2 linked regions of the Homo sapiens genome follow. The protein of the gene in region 2 interacts with the protein of the main gene of each other region in a pairwise test. Each region holds a gene or a part of one and is shown on either strand. Other genes may lie near its edges. The genes, in order: CETN3 and SGSM1.

Region 1 (3,824 bases), on a different chromosome or scaffold from region 2:
TATATCTGTCCCCACTCAAATATCATGTTGAATTGTAATCCCCAGTACTGGAGGTGAGGTCTGGTGGGAGGTGATTAGATGTCCTCACAATAGTGAGTTCTCATGAGATCTGGTGGTTTCAAAGTACTTGGCACTTCTCTCACTTGTTCACTCTGGTTTTCACCATGTGATGTGCCTGCTCCCCCTTTGCCTTCTACCATGACTGTAAGCTTCCTGAGGCCTCCCCAAAAGCAGAAGCACCATGCTTCCTGTAAAGCCTGCAGAACCGTAAGCCAATTAAGCTTCTTTTCTTTATAAAATATGCAGTCTTGGGTATTTCTTCGTAGCAATACAAGAATGACTTAATATACACTTGCTTCCTAGATAACTGTTTGAAATGTCACTACTGCTATAGTATTCCCTACTGATTTTGTGTTAAATTTCTAGTGGACAACCCTTAATGTAATACTCTTAAAAGGCTCACAACATTTAAAGCGCCTCAAATGATACTACACTTTAAACTTAAAAATTTAAAACAAGAATTCTAAAGAAAGATTGCTGAAATAGACAACTCAATTCCGTTCCTGGGAGAGCCCATAACACCGAGTACTAGATATGAGTGAAGGATCCATATAGGTACTATTTTTTTCTATGATCGATCTCCATAACCACTTGTTTCCCCCTAACATACACTTCTACAAGGCAGAAGAGCCCACCAGTACTTGGAAACTGTGTCTCTACTATTTCCTGGTGAATCACAGACTGTTCCTTCATATAGGTAAAACATAGACTTAAATTATTTCTGTGGCTTACAGTTTTCTATTTTCATCACTGTGACATGTAATTGAGTGATAATTACCTTAACAAATCAAAATTCCAAAATTTAAATCTCTCAGTCAAGAAGTTAGAAAATTCAAATTGTATTCATTCAATTTGTTTAAGGAAATATTCAGAAGAAAATTAACTTTCATACTTACAATGATACCAAGTTAAGAAACATAATACACAAGGATAAATGGGTCTATCTGCACAATACTTATTCCTTCTAAACTCAAAGACAGGACTCTTAAAAAAGGAATTAGGCTTATATTGAGTCAGCTTGTATTAAAATATAGAATGTCAAAATTGATGAAATGTTAGGTAATGGAAAAATGTGCCACTCTATTGCTAATTGTATTTCAATTTTTGTTTCAGAAACTAGTAAAATTATAAAGGGAAGATTTAAGAAATCCACTCTTGAGGGTTAACAGATACTAGGAATAAAAACAAATTTACCAAACTTTAAAATTCTAATAAAATAAATATTTTATTAACGAAAGTCTGGAAAATGTGTGCACTAAAAAGTGACTATAAATGTTAAATTAAAAAACCTTCAAAGAACACATATCACACATTCAATTTTTAAAACTTTATATAAAAGCTCTATTATAAATACAAAGCTAAACTATCTGAGTACTAACAACACAGTTCATACAAAGAAACTTAACAGTAGTAAAATACAGATATATAAGATGCTTATTTTTGGTCCTTTAGGATAAAAGAACTAAGTTGGTTTTTTTCACATGGCTCCAGGCACAAAAATAGAATATAAGATGGTAACTGCAACATTCTTAGTGTTTATCCTTGTAATTCTTTAAATGTCACCAGTCATAATAGCAATGAACTCCTCTTGGTTTACTGTGGTAAGAAAGAAAATGAAATAGTCAGAAATATAAACATTTTATTTTTTCAGAATCCACGACTACCATTTTACACTAAGTATTTAAAAAATTTTACATTATGCAAAATTATTACATTAAGACATGGCTTTTTGCTTTTACTTCTTTGTTAGGAAGTGGAACATGTTTATTAAATGTAACTTCTTGGATGCAAAAATACATATAATGTGATAAACATTACAAATTAGTATTCTATAATATTAACTGGGGAAAAGATAATGTTACCAAAAAAGTCAATCACAGTCATATTTGTACATACTTGCTAAAACATTTTAAATGCTTGACATTTCAAGGTTCTTTAAACAACCCTCTTTATAATCTTTATTCTACTAGTTCATTTAGCAAATCCTTCCTTTACAAGTAAGCTTGAACATATCATGCATGTAAATTAGATTTCTAAAGAATGAAAATATAATAAAATTATAAAAAGAAGTTAAATTATTATTTTTTGAACTTTTATATACTTAAAAGCCTATGTTAAAGAATAATTAAAACCAGGTCACCATACCTCAAAGGTATCAATAAAAATGGCAATTTGAAAAGATTACAGATGTAATCTTAATCACCAAAGTAATCCAGTAACTATATAGATGTAAAGGCAGAAAATAATCATGGATAAGGACTAATTTTTAGTTTGCCAAAATTATAAATATAGTAAGAATCTCCAATTTATAAAACATAATGTTTAAGACAGCAACCTAGAAATAAGAAATCAGATAATCTTATAGAATATAATTTTGAAAACCCGACATATGCGCACGTATCAATTAAGAAAAATGTTCAGAAGATACTTCTGGTAAGTATTTAGCATTTAGCCCTAAGACTTAATACATACCTAAACAATGCATAAATTATGAATGATAATTTTGATAATGCCAAAAGAAAACTACACTGAGACTTAAGACCTGGTCTCTAGTCACAGCTCTGCACAGAACAGCTCTGCATCTCATTTCCTTCATCTGAAAACACTGAACTATGAGATGATGTTTTAGATTGTTTAACTCTTATTTACCATAGAAGGTATTATATGAAAATACTCCATTGAATCAAACATTTTTAAGTGGCTAGTGAATGCCAACACCACAATAAGTGTTGCGTAATATATCAAAACAGACACCAGGCTTCCTATTCTGGAATACATTAAAACCGAAATGAGAAAGATATTATATGATATTATAAAATTATTGTTAACTTTCTTAAGTGTAACATTGGTATCATAGCTTTATGAAAGATATATCCTTGTTCTTAGTAGATGGATATGCTAAAATATTAAAGGATCAAGTTTTTGTTTTATTATTAAAATTTAATTAATTAATTAATTAATTTAGAGACCGGGTTATGAGACTGGCTAATCGTTGTATTTTTGGTAGAGATTAGGTTTCACCATGTTGCCAAGGCTGGTCTTGAACTCCTGGGCTCAAGCAATCCACCTGCCTCAGCCTCCCAAAGTGCTGGGATTACAGGCATGGGCCATGGTGCCTGGCCTAAAGACTGAGTTCTTGATATATGAAATTTATTTTCAAATGATTGAGAAAAAAATATACACACGACAGGTAAAGCAAATGCGGTAAAATACTAATTACTAAATCTAGGCAGAAGGTACAATGGTGTTCATTGTACTAGTCTGACAATTTTTCTGTTTGAGAATATTCATAATGAACAGTTAGAAAAAATTAACCAATTAAAAAATGTTGAGGAGATAAAACATGGTCATAGGGAATGAAAAGAATATATACTGCACTGGTTCTAGAAACCACATAGAAAACCGGTTTTGATAACTATGTTAGTCAGTTTTTATACTTGAAACAGAACAAATGTTTTATAACACAAAATACTATTTATTATTAAAACAAAGACCAAATCAGTGTTGAAAAAAAATCCTTCACAATGGTAAAAATTATTACTAATAAGAAAAATTTAGGTAAAGGTAAATCATTACTTGGGCTCTAAAATAAAAATACAGAATTTGGAAAGGAAGTAGAAAGAGAGCTGGGGTGGGAGAATACCATCAGAAATACAGTCAAAGAAAGAATAGTGTATGCCTCACAGAAATAAGCTATGAGTTAGGAAAAATGCACCCTCCAGAAGCTGACAGGGAACTATGAAGCCATGCAATCAGTATTTAAC
Region 2 (3,824 bases):
GAGGGAGAAAGTTTTCTTCTAAGAGTTGGCAGAAACTGTCTATCCTGGTCCCTGCTATTAGCTGAAACTTCCTGAAGTACAGCCCTAAGCAAAACCCTCCCTTGCTCATAAATCTTCTATAGCTCCCCATTATCCACTATGGGAAGTTCAAATGGCACAGCCTGGCACATACAGCCCTGCACAAGCTGGGACTAATGGACCTTTCCTGCCCCATTTCCTTCCCCTGCACATGCCTGAAGCCAAGCTGTGTTTCCAGGGACTTTTCTGAAGCTCATAGCTGCCCACCACTGCCCACTGTAAGCCAAGGTCATGAGGCCATCCCCCTAGATCTTGGCAACATGAGGTTTGAATCCTGACTTCTCCACGGACTGACAGTGGGACCTTAAAGCGAGCTGCATAACATCTCTCTGCCTCCAGTTCCTCATCTATCATGGAAAGAGATGATGGTTCTCTCCCTTAGGGCTTTTATGAGGAGTGAAGGGGATAATGCTCAGAAAGTTCATGGCACAATGCCCAGCACAGAGGAAGCCAGAAGCCCCCAGCAAACACGTAGGAAATTAGGAATGCCTAATTTTTCTTTTCTTTTTTTTTTTCTTTTTTTGAGACGGAGTCTTGCTTTGTCACCCAGGCTGAAGTGCAGTGACGCCATCTCAGTTCCCTGCCACCTCCACCTCCCGGGTTCAAGCGATTCTCCTGCCTCAGCATCCCGAGTAGCTGAGATTACAGGCGCATGCTACCACACCCGGCTAATTTTTGTATTTTTTGTAGAGATGAGGTTTCACCATGTTGGGCCAGGCTGGTCTTCAACTCCTGACCTCAAGTGATCCACTCAGCTTGGCCTCCCAAAGTGCTGTTACAGGCATGAGCCACCATGCCTGGTCATAATTTTTTTTTTTTTTTTTGAGACAGGGTCTCGCTCTGTTGCCTTGGCTGAAGTGCAGTGATGCGATCACAGCTCACTGCAGCCTCAACTTCCTGGGCTCAAGGGATCCTCCTGCCTCAGCCTCTCAAATAGCTGTGACTACAGGCATGCACCACAATGCCTGGCTATTTTTATTTTGTTTTCTGTAGAGATGGGGGTCTTGCTATGTTGCCCAGGCTGGTCCCAAACTCCAAGCCTGAAGTGATCATCCCACCTTGGCCTCCCAAAGGGCTGGGATTACAGGCATGAGCCACAGTGCCCGGCCAGGAATTGCTAATGTTATTACATAGTCCAATCTCTCTTCTATGGCCTAAGTCCATTTTACAGGTGAGAAACTGAGGCATTCTGGGGAAGTTTCCCCTAAATGACATGGCTAGGGAGCCAAGACTTCGTTCCCTGCCCCTGCCCACCCCCACCCCGGCTTTAGACTCCAAATATGCATTCAAGACAATCTAAAAGCAGTAAGAATGAGTTGTTCAAGAACAGTACATTCGTATCAAATTAGCCTAGAGAAGTGAAGGGCGCAGCAGGTGCAGGATGGGTAGGGTGAGCGGGGAGCAGATTTTCCTGCCTTAACAAGAGTTATTCTGGGCTGGCCACTTCTTTGTGCTCCTAGTGGTGGTGGGCTGAGGGGGTGTCTTGTGTATTGCAGGAATGTGAGCAGCATCCCTGGCCTCTTCCCACTAGATGCTGATAGCACCCCCAACTGTGACAACCAAAAATGTTTCCAGACATTGCCAAATGTCCCCTGGAGTAGGGTTGCCAGATTTAGCAACACATACTCATACTAAAAACTTACTCACTGTTTATCTGAAAGTCAAATTTAACTGGGCGACCTGGATGTTATCTGGCAACCAAACCTAGGGACGGGAGACAAAACTGCTCCCCTTCATTAAGAACCACTGGGTCACAGTAAAACTGCAGGGTCCCCATGGTAACGTCAATTGCTTCTCTCGTTTTTCTCCAACCTTCTTAGCAAGTCCTGCCTGCCTCTCCCATCTCATCACCCCTAACCCAGAGGCTGGGAGGCTCAGTTCTCCAAACAGGCTCTGTTCAGCAGCTATGATGATGGCTCCCCAATTACAGCCCTTCCACCAGCTCCGGTCGCAGAGCTAAATGTAGCTTCCACTCCAGGACCTGCCTCATCTCCCTGTCTCCTTCCTGGGGTCTCATCTGCCTCCCACCAGCCCCTGCATTCTCCCCTCCAATTAAGAGGCTTTCTAGGCCCAGCCCAGAGGCAGGAAAACAAGGCAGTTAGTCACTTTGCTTCCATTATCAACTGGCATCACATGGCTGGCTCCTTTAATGGCAGTTGTTATGGCAACGGGAAGCCAGTCCCTGCTCGCTCTGGGAACCAAAACAAAATTAAGGGTTGGCAGGGAGGGTAAAGGAAGCCAGGAAGGAGCCAAGATAGAGCTGGTCAGATTTAACTGGAGGAAATCACGCTGAGGCCACCTTGTTTCCAGCTTTCTCTTGGTGGTACCGAGGACAGAGGGAAAAAAAAAAAGGATGCTTGCCCTGGAGGAGCTCAGGCTAACGTGGTGGGTGTTCTCGCAGGGTTTATCTTGCCAGCTGAATCATTTTCATCCCCATTATGAATAAACGGAAACCCACACACTGATAAAGGTAAAGACAGATCTTGTCTAAGATTGTGCAGTGAACAGGCCAGCAATTTCAGCTCCATCACCTTCTTTCCCTGTTCTCGATGTCCTCCCCATTCCTTTCCCTTGCTTTTGGGATAAGACCACATGTTCCGCCTTCTCCGCATCTGCACCTTTCTCCTTTGTCTCTGCTCCGGTCACTTCGGTTCCTTCAAATTCACAGTGTTCCCTCCAGCCACAAAGCTTCTGCATGTACAAAACCTTCTGCCAGGAATGGTTTTTCTTAGTGTCTCTCAACCCTCTTATCTTCACCTTAAAGTCCTACTCATCTTGCACCTGTCTTCTGAAACGTCATATCCTGGGCCCCTGCACATGGTCAGTTGTCCCTGTTTTGGGTTCTTGCAGCCCCGGGTGCCTCTCCTTCACATCTCTGTTCACAGCCTGTAATTATCCTTGTAATTTTGATAAGGTAACTGTTGGGAGTGTGTTTCCTCCGCTGCAAGGTCAGCCCCAGGAGGACAGGGACAGGGCCCATCTACAAGGGGCCTGTCCCTGCTATATCCACAGAACCTAGCCCAGGGTCTGACACACAGCCCTCAGTAAATAAACACATCTGGGGTTGGAATCCAGCTCTAGTTGAGCCCAAAGTTCTTCTTGACCTGCCTCATGGGTGCTGTGTCCAGCTGGCTCCCCAGGCCAGCACTGGACAGTTTCCAGCTCCCAGCCTCTGTTGGCCCCTTCGTGGCTGCAGTGGCTCTGGCAAACCTTGCAGAGCTGCCCAGCCTATCTAGAGATGTCGATTGTTAAGGCACTCCTTCTAGAAAGAAGGCTGGGGAAACAGATGTACACACAGAAGACAGATATACACACAGACACATGTAGATATGTGTACATACAATGCAGTCTCTGGGTGAGGCTGTGACAGGCAGAGATGTGGCTCCTTTGAACCCAGAGAGTGGGGAGGAGGGAGATCTGATTTGACTCTCAGATTTCTAGGCAAAGAGCTTTCCCTTCTGTTCCACTAGAGACTGGCTCTCTGACACTGAGAGAGATGCTCCCCAAAGAGGTAAGCAAAGGAAGGAAAGGACAGGGGAGACGTGCTTTGGGGGGCACCGAGTTGTTGCCATGTTCTTAGGGTACCTATGTTGAATAGGAACTCAAAAGACAGAAGAACGGAACCTGTTCCCTCACACTGGTTCTGTGCCCTTGAAATGTCACTTATTGTCTCTGGGCCACAGTGTTCTCATCTGTACAGTAGAAACTGTACTGCCCACACATTCTGTCCAAGGTGTGGCACCGTG

What was found.
Region 1: the proteins of SGSM1 (region 2) and CETN3 interact in binary tests that used the Homo sapiens proteins (3 or more experiments, as listed by UniProt).

Annotation. Positions count from the first base shown.
Region 1 is NC_000005.10:90,392,452-90,396,275, forward strand, and holds part of CETN3 (centrin-3), read right to left. Parts: intron 1,657-3,824; coding exon 1,613-1,656; 3' UTR 1-1,612. UniProt on the Homo sapiens protein: Plays a fundamental role in microtubule-organizing center structure and function. As a component of the TREX-2 complex, involved in the export of mRNAs to the cytoplasm through the nuclear pores.
Region 2 is NC_000022.11:24,808,947-24,812,770, reverse strand, and holds part of SGSM1 (small G protein signaling modulator 1), read right to left. Parts: intron 1-3,824. UniProt on the Homo sapiens protein: Interacts with numerous Rab family members, functioning as Rab effector for some, and as GTPase activator for others. Promotes GTP hydrolysis by RAB34 and RAB36.